Regions from separate parts of the Homo sapiens genome. Here region 2 is linked to region 1. The links come from fine-mapping of genetic effects on gene expression. Tissue or cell type: whole blood. Region 1 holds a variant in brackets; the other region holds the start of a gene. All regions are shown on one strand. Distances are from middle to middle.

Region 1 (8,099 bases):
GGCATGAGCGTAATTATCGCACCTGGCCAGGCCACCTTCTGCTGCCTGCAAAGACCTCTTCCGGGATGAGAATCAGAAGCTCTACCTCCATGGCTTTTGCCCCCTGCTCCTCCCTAGGTTTCCGGAACTACCCAGAAGATGAAGGTGGACCTAGAGCAGCACCTGGCCCGGCTCAGTGAGATCTTTGCTGCCCGGGGCGATTACCTGCAGACCCTGAAGTTCATACAGCAGATGGCGGGCAGCGTTGTTGTTCAGCTCTCAGGACTGCCCGTGTGGAGGGAGGTCACCATGGAGCTGACCAAGCTATCCGACCAGACTGGCTACGTGGAGTACTACAGGTGAAGGACCGGTGGGAGGCAGAGGGAGGGGCAGCAGCGGCTACATCAGCTTTGTTTATCCAAACCTGCATGTTGAGCTCCAGGTGGAGAAGGGCCACTGGAAAGTATTTTTTTTTTGTTTTGTTTTTTTAAGACAGAGTCTTGCTCTGTTGCCCAGGCTGGAGTGAAGTGGCACGATCTCAGCTCACTACAATCTCTACCTCCGGGGTTCAAGAGATTCTCTTGCCTCAGCCTCCCTCCCAAGTAGCTGGGACTACAGGTGTGTGCCGCCACGCCAGACTAATTTTTGTATTTTTAGTAGAGACAGAGTTTCACCATGTTGGCCAGGCTAGTCTCTCGAGCTCCTGGCCTCAAGTGATCCACTGGCCTCAGCCTCCCAAAGTGCTGGGATTACAGGCGTGAGCCACCATGCCCAGCCCACCAGAAAGTCTTGATAAGCCATTGGCCAAAATCAGGAGAACATGGGGGCTTACAGGGGCCACGTGGTGAGCATGCAGGATAGCCTCCTTAATAGATAGGCAGCAGAGGCTACAGAGGACAGGGATGTGCTCACACTCCCCGCGCCAAAGGCTGGACCTGGCCTCAGCCTCCCGCACACGGTGGGGTGCTTCTCTGGGACTAGCATTCTTCGTGGCTGGTGCAGGGTGGAAACGCCACATGCTTCATAGGTTCCTCGCCTGCCAGAGTTCATGGGACAGGATTTCTTGTATCCACAGACACAGCCACAGGGTTATGGGGGGTTGAGGAGATGAGCACCCGGCTAAGGGTGCTAAGAAGTTGCCATCAGGGGAGGCTCTGACCTACAAGTCATTGTGCTCCCAGGGCCTGGGCCTAAGCGTGGAGGAGGCACAAGGGAGGAATGAGGCTGTGTCCCCAGACTCACTTTTTTTTTCTTTCTTTTTAAGACAGTATCTCACTCTGTCACCCAGGCTGGAGTGCAGTGGTGTGATCATGGCTCATTGTAGCCTTGAACTCCTGGGCTCAAGTGATCCTCCCGCCTCAGCCTCCTGAGTAGCTGGGACTACAGGCATACAACCACACCTGGCTAGTTTAAAAAAATTTTTTTTTGCAGCTGGGACTGGTGGCTCACACCTATAATCCCAGCACTTTGGGAGGCCAAGGCAGGCAGATCGCCTGAGGTCGGGAGTCCGAGACCAGCCTGACCAACATGGAGAAACCCTGTCTCTACTAAAAAATACAAAATTAGCTGGGCGTGGTGGCGCATGCCTGTAATCCCAGCTACTTGGGAGGCTGAGGCAGCAGAATTGCTTGAACCCAGGAGGTGGAGGTTGCAGTGAGCCAAGATCATGCCATCACACTCCAGCCTCAGCAACAAGAGGGAAACTCCATCTCAAAAAAAAAAAAAAAATTTTTTTTTAGAAATAGGGGTCTTGCTTTGTTGCCCAGGCTGGTCTCAAACTCCTGGCCTCAAGCAATCCTCCCACCTCAGCCTCCCAAAGTCCAAGGATTACAGACATGAGCCACCATGCCCAGACCAGCCTCACTTATGTAGAACCTGAGTGATGGGGACTGAGGGGCACCACCCTCACTTAGGTGTACAAACTCATGCCCGTGTCATCTGACCTCTGGGGCTTTGTTTACATCTCCCCTGCCTCCCCATTTGCCAAATCCCAGCCTAGCCAGAGGCACTGGACACAATCGGCGGAGCAGGGACCTGCTGCCCCTCTCCAGGTGCAGGGTCCAGCGAAGTTTGCTCCGTGGAAAGCACAGGAAGGAGGCAGCAGCCCCAGCCTTTGGAGGGCTCCCGGCTGAATGATGGCCTGGGCTTGTGCTCCCAGGGCCCGGGCCTAGCATGGAGGAGGCACGTGGGGAGGGGAAGCATGAGTCAGGAGGAGCGAGTGTCAGTTCTTTGGATCCCTCCCCGCACCCTCCATTTGTTGGCTCCTCTTCAAGCCATTGATGAACGTCAGAGCCTTTAGCTCAGGGTTGCACAACTTACTTCTGTTTTCTGGATTTGTGTCCCCTTGTGTCATAAAGCCCCACTCCAGGAGGTCACTGCTGGACTGAGTCCAGGGGCCTCTCCCCTTCCCAAAAATAGGAGGTGGCAGGTCCCTGAGCAGAGGGAGCTCATGAAGTCCCCAGCTCTGGGGGTCCTCCCCACACCTTGCCTCCCCAGCCCGTCCAGTCCCTGCATCTCCGCCATGTCCTGGATGCTCTGGATTGAAGGGACCTTGGCCCCACTCCCCAGCAGATGGATGCTCATGGGCAAAAGAGCCTCCCTCCCAAGGGACAGAAGGAAACTGCCAGCTCTAAGGACTGTCTGTGACCTCCTGTGGCCCCAAAACAGGGGTGTCTGATGATTCTCCTGATGCATGGGCCATTCATTGCCTGAGCCTTCGAAATCTTATGTCAGGCAGGGGCAGGACCCATTTTAACGTCACTCTTCTCTGAGCACACCTAGCAGAGGACTGTGTATGTTTAAGGGCCTCATGTGGGCATTTTGTTAATGACACTGATGGAATTAAGTCAGAATTTACATATCAAAGGCGGCTTATTGTTAAGGCGATGGTATTAAAATAGTGGAAGGATGGTGTCAACTGCACATCAGCTATTTCAGCGTGGGTGATTGACAGGACCCCCTGTGAGTCCATCCCCAACTCCCCACTGCTTATTCGGGTTGAGGCAGAAGAGGTTTGGCTCATGCTGTAATCCCAGCACTTTGGGAGGCTGAGGTGGGTGGATCACCTGAGGCCAGTAATTCGAGACCAGCCTGGGCAACATGGAGAAACCTCATCTCTACTAAAAATACAAAAATTAGCTGGACGTGGTGGCGCACGCCTGTAGTCCCAGCTACTTGGGAGGCTGAGGCAGGAAAATTGCTTGAACCCAGGAAGCGGAGGCTGCAGTGAGCCGAGATTGCGCCACTGCACTCCAGTCAGGGCAATAGAGTGAGACTCTGTCTCAAAAAAAAAAAAAAAGCAGAGGTCTAGTCCAAGGTTGGCACCTATGGCGCCTGAACATCAGTGATATTCTACCCCTTCTCCTGTCTTTGCTTCCATCTGTGGCTTCTCCTCTCACCTGAGCTGCTCTGCAAAAAAAGCCCTCCCCTGAAGGGCCCCTGTCTTTGCTTTTGGGATAGTCCTTGAGCATAACCATGCAGCAAAGCAGATATTTCCTAGCATTTTTATACAAGGCGGGGCGAAGTATTGGAGGAGATAAAAAGCCAAGGGGCTCCTCTCTTTGAGAGGCTACGGTTGAGGGAAGAGGGAGCCGGGGTGGGAGTGGCTCTGGCAGGCAGAGCCGAGTTCTTGGTTAGGAATACATCCCCCAGTCCTCGCCCAGCTCCTCTGGGAAAACACATCCGCCTAGAGGAGATGTTTCCAGGAACCCCTGACAACATGAGGCGTGGAGGCAGGGAAAATACATTGAATCACAGCCACAGAGAGTGGGTTAGAAGCACCCCTAACTGGATTTCCTGCTGCTCTGCAGAGCGGAGGCGAGTGGTGAGAAGAAATCTTTAAGTTTGAAACATGAACTGGGTATTTCGAGAGGTGCCCTGTAGCTGGCTGTGTCCCTTGCAGGAAGCTTGATGTAGACAATGTGGAATTTCTGGGCCAGGCTCTCCCCACCAGGGGCCTTGGCTTTCTAATCTGTACTAATCTGTAGAATGGGATCCAGCTCACACCTATGATCCCAGCACTTTGGGAGGCTGAGGCAGGAGGATCTCTTGAGTCCAGGAGTTTGAGACCAGCCTGGACAACATAGACAGACCCGGTATTTATAATACGTGTGTGTGTGTGTGTGTGTGTGTGTGTGTGTGTGCGTGTAAAAATAAGAATGTGATCCAAACACTAGATGGTTTGCGAGGTTCCTTCCAGCTCTGAGCTAAGTCTAAGGAAACTGGCTTCTTGGTGGCAGCAGGCTCTGCCCACTCCCCAAAGCCCCCGGCTCCATTCCGGGGAACCCCAGAGACCTAGTGTGTGCTGCCCCCTGCTCGTGCAGAGACAAGGACTTTGATTAGTCCCCTTCTTTTGGCAGTAAGCCTCAATTCGGGGAGTCAGAAAGAACCTCCCTTGGCTGCCAGGCCTCCAGCTTGCTCCCTCCCCTCTCTCCCTCGGAGCCTCTTTGCCACTTTCTGCCAGCTCCAGGGCACTCCCTGCCCACGCTCCAAACTCCGTCTTCCCCTTTATGATGTCAGTGAAGCAGAAAACCATTGCTGGAGAGGAGAGGTCAGCGACTTTACTTGGCTCTTGCAGCAAGAGAAATAATGATCCAAATACTTCCCTCTTTGGGGACGGGGAAGCCCCTGTCTCTGTGCCCGCCCCTCCTCTGTCCACTCTCCCGCTGGTGCCCAGCACAGGGTAAAGGGCATGGCTGCCAGGGGAGACCACTGGGCCTTGTGAGGACCACCTTGGGGACCTGTGTGGAAGGGAAAGGAACGAGGGCACTTTGTTTGGGGTCTTCTCAGTGTCCGTTGGCTTAAGATACTTTGATTCTTCAGCCTGTTCTCTGGAGAAGCAGGAGGGCAGGGCCTTTGAAGTCCTTGGCTGCCTTGCCCCATCAACCTTTATATTTAGCAAGCACTTAATCCTTCCTCTGGCCCTGTGAGATGAGGGGTTCCAGCTCCCTCTACAGATATGGAAACCAAGGTCTCAAGGGGTGAAGTGGCTTACCAAGGTCTCCCAGCTGGGGTGTG[A/G]CTGCCTTTCCCCATCAGTCCAGCCCTGGGGACAAAAAGGCCAGAGGAATGAAGGGCTTGGAGGAGGCTGGAGGTCTGCAGGGCTGTAGGTACCCTGACCTGGACTCCCGGGTTCCACACTGAGCCCTCTGATGGTCAGAAACGAGCCCACTCACCTGGGTATCCCTGGTGCCAAGCTCAGTGCCTGGCACAAATGTTGTTTAAAAATGAACCTGAAGTTTTTTGTTGTTGTTGTTTTTGAGATGGAGTCTCACTCTGTGGCCCAGGCTGGAGTGCAATGGCGCCATCTCAGCTCACTGCAACCTCTGCCTCCTGGTTTCAAGTGATTCTCCTGCATCAGCCTCCCGAGTAGCTGGGACTACAGGTGCCCGCCACCACACCTGGCTAATTTTTGTATATTTTGTAGAGATGAGGTTTCACCACGTTGGCCAGGCTGGTCTCGAACTCCTGGCCTCAAGTGATCTGCCCGTCTTGGCCTCCCAAAGTGCTGGGATTACAGGCGTGAGCCACTGCGCCTGTCCTGAACCTAAAAGTCTTAAGTTATGGATCCCATCCAGCAAGGGGGCAAGATGGGAGGCCTTGGGGAGCCAGGCTGAGTGTTTGTCAAAGAGGCAGGCACCTTAGGGGCTGTGTTAGATCTGTGGCTATAAACATCAGGCCTTGGCTGGTCTGATGCTGTCTGAGAGTTCTAGAAGCAAAGGGAAGCAGGGTCCTAGGCGATGCCTGCTGGGAGGCCGCAGAAAGACACTTCAGAGCTGTGCTGTCCAGGGTGGTAGCCCCAGCCATGTGTGGCTATTGAAATTAATTAAAATTAAGTAAAGTTTAAAATGTATTTCTTCAGTTGCACAAGCCATATTTCAAGTTCTCGGTAGCCACCTGTGGGTAGTGGCAAAGAAGAGAGTGGACAGCAGGGATTTAGAACAGCTCCTCCACTGGGGAAAGTTCTAGTGCACAGTGCTGGTTTTGACACTCAGCCTAGAGGTGAAGGCAGGGGGTGTGAATTGACAGCTTTGTCCAGGCAGCAGTGGGGGTGCAGCTCCCGAGGCTTCAGCCCACGCATGCTGGGTGCTTGCTGGCTCTGGGCAGCATGTCCATAGTAGAGGGTCCAGTGTGTCCCAGGGCTGCCGTGCAGGCCTCTCACGTGGCCAGCAGGTCAGAAGTTCCACCCTGCTGCTCCTGACCATCCCTGCCCCTCTACCCAGGTGGCTCTCCTACCTCCTGCTCTTTATCCTGGACCTGGTCATCTGCCTCATTGCCTGCCTGGGACTGGCCAAGCGCTCCAAGTGTCTCCTGGCCTCGTGAGTATCCCTACCCGTGGACCTGGGACAAAGAGCTGGGCAGGATGCCATCATCAGAGAGAGACGAGGGCCTGGCCAGCTCCAGAGTGTGGGGAAAATAGCCAGGCTGCCTGAGGCCACCTTCTGCCCCGTCCTCAGCACTCAGCAGAGGAGACAGACAGCAGCCACCAACTCACCATCTGGTCACCAAACGAGCAAGCATTAGGCTTTCCTCCTTCTCTGGGCCTGACTCTGTTGAGCAGCTAAGAAACATGGGTCCGTGCATGAAAGCCTCTGGCCGTCTTAGCCAACACTGCCCCCTTAGCCTGTGCTCTCACGCCTGGGTCTCTTTAGCCTCAAGGACCTGGGCTCCATGGTCCTTTCCTAGTAGTGAGCAGGGCCCACGTCAGGGCAGGGACTGAGGCTGCCTTTGGATCCATTGCAAGGGTCTGGGGGCAGGGTGGGTGGGGTGATGGCTGAGAGGAAGGGGACCCCGCCTGCCAACGTTGTCGCCTGCCTCTCTCCTAGGATGCTGTGCTGTGGGGCACTGAGCCTGCTCCTCAGTTGGGCATCCCTGGCCGCTGATGGCTCTGCGGCAGTGGTGAGTTGGGGGAGGGAGTGGGTGGTGGGTGGTGGTTGGTCTGCCAGGACACTCTGGTGTGTCTCCAAGCAGGGCCAGCTTCCGGTCCCAGCTCCTAACCTAGAATCCCAGAATCTCAGAACCAAAGGGACTTGCGTCATCTGAACCGGCCCCTCTCGTTACAGATGGGGAAACAGGCCCAGAGAAAGGAAGGGGACTGCCCAGGGTCAGAGCCAGGATAAGACACTCATGCTTCATACCCAGAGAGAAGCCCCCGGCTGCCCAGGCATGCTTAGGCTTACACGTGCTTAGGCTTAGGCGTGCCTGGGTGACCAGGGCGCTTCTCTCTGGGTGTGAAGAACTGACCGGGTCTCCTGAGAATGGGTAGGGGTCCAAGCCTCAGACTGGGGAATCCCTCCCGCATCAGAAGCTGCTGCTTTGCCAGCTCCCCAGGCCCTGGGACTGTAGAATGTGGTGTCTGACTTGCCTTCCATCCCAATGTCCCAGGACTCCCGCGGTCTGAAGCACACATGCTGTATGTTTCTGGATGTGATGTCTCAAAATGGCTTAAAAAAAAAAAGTTGGGGGCTTCCTATGCGGGTCCACATGATCTTTAAAGGACCTAACACTGGCGCTAAGCTGTGTGCATGAGGCTGTTCATTCACTCAGCTGACATTGTTTGCTGGGTGGCACTCGATGGTACAAGTTGCCTGGGGTTGCGGAAGCCAAGAGGACGTGATGTTTGCTGTTGACAAAGTTCCAGCCTTTGGAAGCAAGACTCATAGGCAGATCACTGCAACCCCAGGCTTTGATACAGTGGAGGTGCAGTGTGTGTGTGTGTGTGTGTGTGTGTGTTTGTGTGTGTGTGTTCATGCACATGCACGTGATAGAAGAGAACACAGTTTACCAGGGGAATTCAAGGAACCCCTCACTGATTCAAAGTCCACAGACTAACCCTGGGACATGCATCTGTTCTGCCATAGTGACCTGAGGCTTGATAGGATAAGATGGGGGTGGCTTGTACAAGAAGCTCCCTAACCACACTCACACCTCGTCCAGTGACTTGGGGGCTGGCCACTAGCTCTGGGCGTGGACACAATGCCCTCAGGGACTCTGGCACTGCCTGACTTAGCACCTTAGGCAGAGGCTTGTGCAGAAGGGAGAAGAGGGGGCATTTTCTGTCTTTGCCTCCTGCCACCCCAGTGCAGTGACCACGGACCAAGGAATGGTCGAGAAAAGGCCCAAGT
Region 2 (8,099 bases), 28 kb before region 1:
GGGTGTGGTGGTGCACGCCTGTAATCCCAGCTACTCCAGGAGGCTTAGGCAGGAGAATCGCTTGAACCTGGGAGGCGGAGGTTGCAGGGAGCCAAGATTGCGCCACTACACTCCAGCCTGGCAACAGACCGAGACTCTGTCTCAAAAAACAAAGTAGAAATAAGAAAGATAATAAGGTTGATAGAAGATATTCTGTAATGTTGTGTTCAGTGTACCCAATAAAAGTCCCAAGTTGGAGGAACGGGTAATAGTGTTTTCTGTTTGCACAGAGGGATGGTACTGGAGGTGGGTGCTGTCTCCTGCATGCTGCTTACTGCTTGAGTGTATTTGCACATGGACTGTGTCACATCTGTTTTCTGTGATACAATTTAATTCCTGATTCTGGTCTCCGGTAGCTGTCAAGATCAAGAAAAATAAGGACAACGTGAAGTTTAAAGTTCGATGCAGCAGATACCTTTACACCCTGGTCATCACTGACAAAGAGAAGGCAGAGAAACTGAAGCAGTCCCTGCCCCCCGGTGAGTGAGCCTGAAGTCACTTCAGGGGCGGGTGGGGTTTGGAAGGTTGCTGTGTGTGGCCATGTTGTATCTTGTTTTGAATCCCTCTCAGATTTCAGAGCCCATTTTATGGTCTAAGAATCTGCTCTTGCTGTTGGGAGTGTGAGGAATAGTTGTGATTCTCAGATTATATACAGTACCAGAAATCATTTCCTTAGCCAGAAGAGCGGTTAGAGCTCATTTAATCCTGTTCACGACCCTTCGAGGTTGGTGCTAGTACTGATAGTCCCCATTTTTTACAGGGGAACAGATGAAATATAATAGACCAAGTCTTTTTATCGAATATAATAGACCAAGTCTTTTTATCAAACACTAAATATTTTAACCGAAACTTCGCTGGTGGATCTAATTTCTGAACCTTGTGTGCTCTCTTTAGCTTAAGTACAAAATTTAGACAAGCAGCAGCAACTCAGATGTGTCTTCTGGATGGCTTACTTTTGTCTCTTTCCCTCTAGGTTTGGCAGTGAAGGAACTGAAATGAACCAGACACACTGATTGGAACTGTATTATATTAAAATACTAAAAATCCTAAGTGTCTTTCGTCTTTGCGGATGGGAAAGGGAAAAATGCTACCTCGTAGTGGCTTCTGATGGGAACAGGACGCGGGTTCTGTTGCTGCCTTCCTGTGTCTTTTTTTTTTTTTTTTTTTCTTTCTTTGAGACGGAGTCTTGCTCTGTGGCTCATCCTGGAGCACAGTGGTGCGATATCAGCTCACTACCACCTCCGCCTCCTGGGTTCAAGCGACTGTCCTGCCTCAGCCTCCCGAGTGGCTGGGATTACAGGCACACATCACCACGCCTGGCCAATTTTTGTATTTGTAGTAGAGACAGGGTTTCACTGCCTGCCTCAGCCTCCCATAGTGCTGGGATTACAGGCATGAGCCTCCGTGCCCGGTGCATCCCTAATCTTGAGCATGATCTCAGTCGGCAAATGAGGCCATCTGTTTTCAGCCTGTTTGAAAATAAGATGTGGGGAGGCCATGATGGAAATAGCACGTGGGGTTAAACATAACTGGCAGATGTGGGAGCGATGGTGGGGCATGCCATTCAAACAGGTCCCAAAATGGGTGCAACAAGGTATAGCACATCTACCACTCGCTAACTTGACTGACTTGGAGAAATGACTACACTTTTGCCTGTTTCCTCAGTTGGAAAATAGCCATATTAACACCTCTTTCATTGGCTTGCTGTCAGGGTACTGGGATGGGGGGAGGTGCATGGGTTGGGGTGGCCACCAGGTGGTGCTGTGCCACAGCGGGCAGCCCCTCTGGAAATGACTGGCATCATAAAATCTGTCTTCATACCCGAGGTAGTGTTTTTTGTTTTTTTAAGATCTCTACCTTTTAAAAGCGTGGCATACAGTGTGCTTGGTATTGTGTTAGGCATTTAGACGTGCTCAGGTTGTAAGGTTGAAGTGCCAGTCTTTGAATATTCTGTAAGGATTGTGAGGGTGTGAGGTGGTTTTGAGTCTGGTCACGGGTCTTGTTTCCTCCGGGAGAGGGTGGGTACACCAGCCCTCAGGCCCAGGTGCGGCACTGTGGGCGGCTTTCAGCCTTTCCCGTTCTGTAAGCATTGCAGATTCCCAAGGAAAAGCGAGCCTTTACCATGTGGGTTTTCTTTGTTCCCAGCACATCGTCCAGAGTTTCATCCCAGCTCCTAGGAGACAGGCCTTGCAGGGGTGTGTCCAGCCTTGTCTAGAGAAGGCCGCCTTTCATGCAGTGCTTCCCAGCCCTGGCTTGTGACTCAGTCATCTGGGGCACTTAGGCAGTTCACTGTGGTGGCCAGGGCTGACTGGAGATTGCGATTGCGGTGGTCTGGGGCATAGGTGTGTTTCCAAGCTCTCAGGTGGGCCTCTGCTTTGCTGGGGCTTCAGCAAGCCCTTAAGTGCTGCATACCAGGTGAATGGGGAGGGGGGAGGTGATGGGCTACAGCTGCTGGTGTGCCGACTGTCCTCCAACTCCCTGCTGAGTCTGTGGGAGGTCTGTCTGTTGTGCTTCAGCTTTTTGACACCTCTCTGGGTCAGCAGGCCTCCGGGGAAGCAGCTAGAATGGTCGCTGTCTGGCTGGGTGCAGGTGGGCTGACAGGTTTGGATATTCCAGGCCGCATTCCGGTGGCTGTGGAGATAGCCCTGAGGGACAGCCTTTGCAGTTTGTTTCTTCCAGTGCCGTGTGCAGGCCTCCAGCCTTCTGGGGCTCCCTTGCCCCGGGTTCAAAGTCAGTCCTCGGTGACCACCCACTGCCTAGGAGGCAGGCCCTTCCCACCTGGGGGGCCTCTGAGGGCAGGGGCTGTAAAAGCAGCTACCAGAAGAGTCCACTTTCCCCAGCAACTGCAGGGACTGAGTCAGAGACCAAGACCTTTTAAAAGGAGGTTTTCACCCAAAGAAGTTCCCTCCCCTGCCGCAGTCTCCAAGCTGATCGCCTGGCTCCTGCAGTTCTCCGGCTCCCTGTCCTGTTCTGGAACTTGCTTGCTTCCCCTTCCACTGGCCTTAGTCCCTGATCTCACAGGGTCCTGTTCCTTCTGCACAGAGGCCTCCCCCAGCACCCCCCTCTTTGACTCCCGATCATCCTTCAGCTCATGTCACTGTCCTTTGGGAAACAACCCTGACGCCCACCTTCCATCCCCTCTCCCTACAGCAGGGACTCTGACATTTCACAAGGCCTGCAATCGCTGTTTGCAGGATACAAGTCCACCTCACCTCGCCTACTAGGCTGTAGACGCCATGCAGGCGGGAACGTGTGTTTTATCCATTACTGTATCCTCTAGAACAGAGAACGTGCTCAAGAAAATTTGTTGAAAGACACCCCAATGAGAGAAGAATGGCTGTTTCCAGCCTTCCGGGCCCCTCAGCTTTGGGCTCCTGCAGGGCCCCAGAACCGTGGGATCACGGCCACGAGGAGAGGCCCCGAGGCCAGGACTTCCTCTAATGGACACAGGGCCTTTGAGCACCGGGTGACTGGGGCCCCACTCCCCAGCAGCCATATGTGTTTGCGAGCGTTTTCAGTCGGTCCGCATCCACCCGGTCCCTTCAGCCAGAACCCTAGGAGCCCCGCCCCGTCCTCCCGGGGCTCCTTTCTCACCCGCGTCCCTGCCGCGGTGGATACGCACCCCTCAGGCTGGCTGCCCAGCGCGGTTTCCACGCCCAATCTGCCGCGACCCCATCACTCCACCGCACCTACCCCTGACTCCTGCTTGTCCTGCAGCCTGGGCTCCTCCCTCCGCTGGCCAAGTCACGCCAAGCAGTTTGCGGTTACAGGACGGGTGGGGGCCTCTGCATATGTGCAGAGTACGGAGGGCCCAGGGACGCGAGGCTCCCCGATGGGCAACCTCCCCTGCCTTTGCTTTTCCCCAGAGCCCCCTCCTGGCCTGCGTTCGGCATCTTCTCGGGTCGTCATCGCCCTCTGCGGTGCCTGCGCTCGGGGTGAGGGTTTTTGTCGGCTTTTGTTACATCACCGATGTAACAGTGCCTGGACGTAGTAGGTGCTCAATAAATATGTTGTTGAATGCGCTTCAGTCTCCCCGAATGCTTGTCCCTTCCGGGCGCTCTCATCGCTCTCCTACCTTCCCCGCTACACAGCTCGAAGGTCCCCTCCTCCGGGAAGCTCACCCTGTCCCACTTGCCAGGAAGAATCAAGCAAATTTTCTGAGTGAGACACCTTGTCCTCACTCAGGCGTCCTGCAGGCGGCTTCAGCGAGTTGTTGGGGCAGATGCGCCGGGAGCTCCCGAGGGCAGGGACGGCGTCTTATTTCTCTTTTTAAGTCCACAGGGCTTGCACAATAGATGCCCAAAAAATGAGAGTGAATTTAGAATGAGTGACCGAGTGGCTGAAGATTGCCTCCTTCCTTTCCCAGTCTGTCGGTTACTTACCCTGTGACAAGCCCTTGGGACGGGCAGTCGCCCCTCTCTGGCCTATGACTGCTGGCTGCCCCCACTGACACCTTATACCCTTGATCTGATCATAAATAAGAAGCAGCCCGGGGACCTCGAGACTGAAACTGATTTAGAGACTTCTGGGAGCTTTTTTCACTTCCCTCCTCCCATCCGGCCAGGACAGATCCCCGCCCAGAAAGGGGCTGTTGACTGCAGCGGGCTGCGCGCCCAGAACTGGGACTGGGATCGCGGCGGGGCGGGGCGGGCGCGGGCCCAGGGAGAGGCGGGGCCGGGGGCGGGGCGGGCACGGGGCCCCGGCCGGGAGGTGAGCGCAGCTGTCGTTCAGCTTGTGGGTAGCACTCGGGCCGAGCCATGCAGGCGGCGCGCGTGGACTACATCGCTCCCTGGTGGGTCGTGTGGCTGCACAGCGTCCCGCACGTCGGCCTGCGCCTGCAGCCCGTGAACAGCACCTTCAGCCCCGGCGACGAGAGTTACCAGGAGGTAAGTTTACGCCGCCCCAGACCGCAGCCACGCGCGCCCCAAGTCCCCGCACTACCCCCTCTCCCCTCGAGAGCCTGCACTTTCCCACGTGCCTCTCAGACCCCTTCTCTCCCCGCGCAGCCCTTTCCCGTCTCCCCTCTCCCCTTTTCCCCCACCCTCCCAGGCCCGTGGCCCGCGTCCCCTCCTGTCTGGGAACCTGGGGGCCGGGAAAACTGAAGAGATCAGAGTGAAGCGAGCGTGGGGAAGGGGAGGAAGGGCGCAAGACCGCCTGCGGGGTGAGGGGCTGAACGCTGAGCGGGCAGGGCGGCGCGGGGGAGGGGTAAGGACAGGGGCATTCGTCTCGGGGTAATCCTGGCGCGCGAGGTGCGGGGATGCTGAGGGGTGCCCCGAAGTTTTCGACCGTCTGAGATTCCAAGATGGGGCGCTCTCTTTCCGGGGCTGAGTGGCCTAGGAAAGTTTGGCAGAAACTGAGTAGAGTCTCCCGAGTCGGTCTTCGCAGCACCCCTCCTCCCCAGCCCCGGCCTGCAGGGTGGGAGTCTCAGCTGGAAGGCTGCAGGGCTTGGGGAAGCGGTGTGGGTCACTTCCCCTCTAGCGCAGAGAACCCACAGCTGCTTGCGCTTGTTCCAGGGAAGGAAGGTGGCCTCCGTCAGCCCATCTCACACTGTTGTCCTGAGGACCCCCTTGCATTGACAGTCAGCTTCTCTGTGTCCCCTGGTCCTAGACTGGCCCATTCCTGTTCCCCCACGCCCCTCTCTCTACCTCACACCTTTAAGCCCTGAATTTCTGGCCTAGGGCAGTCACTCCCGGCTTCCCCGCCCTTTCCCTACTCTGCTGACCCTTGGCAGGATTCTGCACCCCACAAACAGGGCCAGGGCTCCCCAGACCTCCCTGCCCAGACAAACAAAGCTGCAGAATCTCCCAGCCCGTCTCAGGTCTGGTCACGCCTGCTCTGGCCCCGGGAGCCCACCTGTATCAGTTCCTTGTGTTGGGTCAAAGATTCTGGGGCCAGTGGACCAGGATGAGGTCCATTTATTCAGAGCCAGGCGCCCATCTCAGGACTTTGGCCCCCGGCGGCCTCTCCCTGTGTCAAGTTCTCCAGATATGGGACAGATCAGGGCAAAGCAGGGCCTCTTGGAGGGAATCCTGATCCAGTGTGAGGTGCCCAAGCGCCAGTGACAGGGAGTCTAATAATAACCCCTGACGACCCGGCTGCCATCAGGCCCAGGCAGATGGTGCCTGCCCTACCAGAGGGAGGGGAGCATCAGGACCCCTTCCTGGGGTTCAGTGGGCACTCAGGAGCAAGACGGCAGTCGGTGGACCCACCCCCCTCCCCCAGAGCCCAGCCTGTGGGAGTCTGTGTTCCCTGAGAATGTGGCTGCCTGGGGATAGCTCCAGGGAATCTTCCTCTCCCAGAGAATGCATGAAAAGAGGCGGATATGATTTCAGAAACAGCCGTGTGTGTGTGTGTGTGTGTGTGTGTGTGTGTGTCCCCATCCCAAACCCTGTGCCCCACATCCCACACCCGGGGTCTCCAGCCATAGTTTTCTCCTCTCCACTGGAGGAAATCTAAACTTTTCATTGGGTCAAGAAGACCCCTAGGTGGGGGTAGGGATGGTAAGGGGACTCCCTCACCCTGATGGCCCCAGAGACAGTTCCTATCAGCCCAACAGCTGTGGCTGGTGGATCCTGGGCCTGCCCACAGCCCCCTCAGTCCCATGGGCAGGTGGCAGTTGAGCCAGATGAACCTACCTCCAGCCTCTGCCCCTCCTCCCAGGATTCTGGCCCCGGCTCACTTTGTGCTGGGCATCAAATGGTTCCAGAGGGTGTCCCTTCCCATCGGCCACTGCTCCTGGGCAGCTGACACCAGCCCTGCCCACTGGCTCCTGGTCCCGCTCACCCCCTCACCACCACTCAGATCGCTGAGTAGGAGATGAGCGTGGTGGGCCAGGACCGGAAGTCTGGCTCTGGGTGTTATTTAAGGTGGCTCCTGTTTTTGGTAAGTTCCCCTGTTGTGACCACAGGTCTCTCCTGGATGTCTTCTTTCCTCCTGAGCACCAGTCACTAACAGAGTCAGGTGGACCGTCGGTCATCCCAGTCTTCAGCAAGCTTGACTGGAGCAAGTGCTATGCCAGGCGTGGGGTGACCGTGGTAACCAAGGCAGCAGGTCTTCAGGAGAAATTGCTGGGGATTTTCTGCGGCTGGGCTCTGGGCGCAGTGCTATGGCAGACACCAAGCAGTTTGAGGTGGGGCTCTGCCCTCCAGTTGGCTGGGGTGGATTCCCAGTTCTTTCCATGTGTGACCACGGGTAGGTGTCTTAACCTCTCTGAGCCTTGTTCCCTTCATCTGCAAGAATTAGATGAGATATTCCACATATCATGCCTAGTACAGAGAGTCCCATAGCACATAACAGGAGCCAGTGACACAGATCATTCAATGGAGTGGCTGAGAGGTTCAGGAGTGTGTCTCAGGACAGTACCCTGCTGGGGAATGGAGAGGAAGGAGATCTCTTCCACAGACTCTGATTGGGGGAGACTGAACAAAACGCCTGCAGAAAGGGCTTCAGCTCATGCCCCACATGTTCAAATGCACAGTGCTGGCTGTGTGGGGTGTGGGGGGTGGGTGCGTGTGCATCAGAGACTAAGCAAGGATGGAAACAGGCAGGTGCTGGCCTTAGGATGTGGGTGGTGCGGGGGATCTCAAAGGCAAGGGGGTTCTTGGAAGTGCAGAGATGGTGAAGAGCAGGTCACCTGGTGAGCTGGGATTTCCTGAGCAAGTTCAGTGTTCCAGAACCTTCCTGAGGAAGTAGGGGCTCTCACTCACTTTCTGGGGTGTTTGGGAGCCGTGAAAGCCCCCAGTCCTCCTGATAGTTGATCCTCACCCCTCTCCCCCCAGTGAACTTGAGCCCAAGTCCTCGCAAAGGCCACTTGGCCTGTGTCACCAGCCTTGTGGGGAGGCTACCCTCCAGTGAGTAGAGGCATGAGAGGTGAGCACCAAGGCAGGGCTGTGGACGAGGGCACCTTGGCCCTGGCGGGCACCCAGCTCTGGGCTGCCAGATGTGGCTGTATGTCTGGAAGGAAATCAGCCTAGACCTGCAGCCCAAGTCTTCTCACCTTTGACAGATGAGGGGGATTGGATTTGGAGACGATTCCTACTCTAAAGAGATGATAAAAGAAC

The links. PIP is the estimated chance that this variant, and not a neighbour inherited with it, causes the effect.
Region 2: TTYH2 starts here. The variant in region 1 is fine-mapped to the expression of TTYH2 in whole blood (TOPMed, PIP above 0.99).

The regions. Positions count from the first base shown.
Region 1 is chr17:74,237,177-74,245,275 of GRCh38, forward strand. TTYH2 (tweety family member 2) reads left to right here. Exons shown (of 14, transcript NM_032646.6): 4 at 118-338; 5 at 6,198-6,293; 6 at 6,801-6,873. Among named protein-coding and RNA genes, the nearest start is that of TTYH2, 28 kb to the left of the region's middle. RefSeq lists an enhancer at 7,706-8,099. The variant A/G (reference allele first, on the strand shown) is at 4,996.
Region 2 is chr17:74,208,792-74,216,890 of GRCh38, forward strand. TTYH2 (tweety family member 2) reads left to right here and starts at 4,780. Exons shown (of 14, transcript NM_032646.6): 1 at 4,780-4,925. The coding sequence starts at 4,797. It overlaps RPL38 (ribosomal protein L38), which reads left to right. Exons shown (of 5, transcript NM_000999.4): 4 at 396-518; 5 at 1,013-1,864. The coding sequence ends at 1,038. It overlaps MGC16275 (a long non-coding RNA gene), which reads right to left and starts at 4,530. Exons shown (of 2, transcript NR_026914.1): 1 at 3,733-4,530; 2 at 1,189-2,891. RefSeq lists enhancers at 1,702-1,751, 7,075-7,124 and a silencer at 4,657-4,816.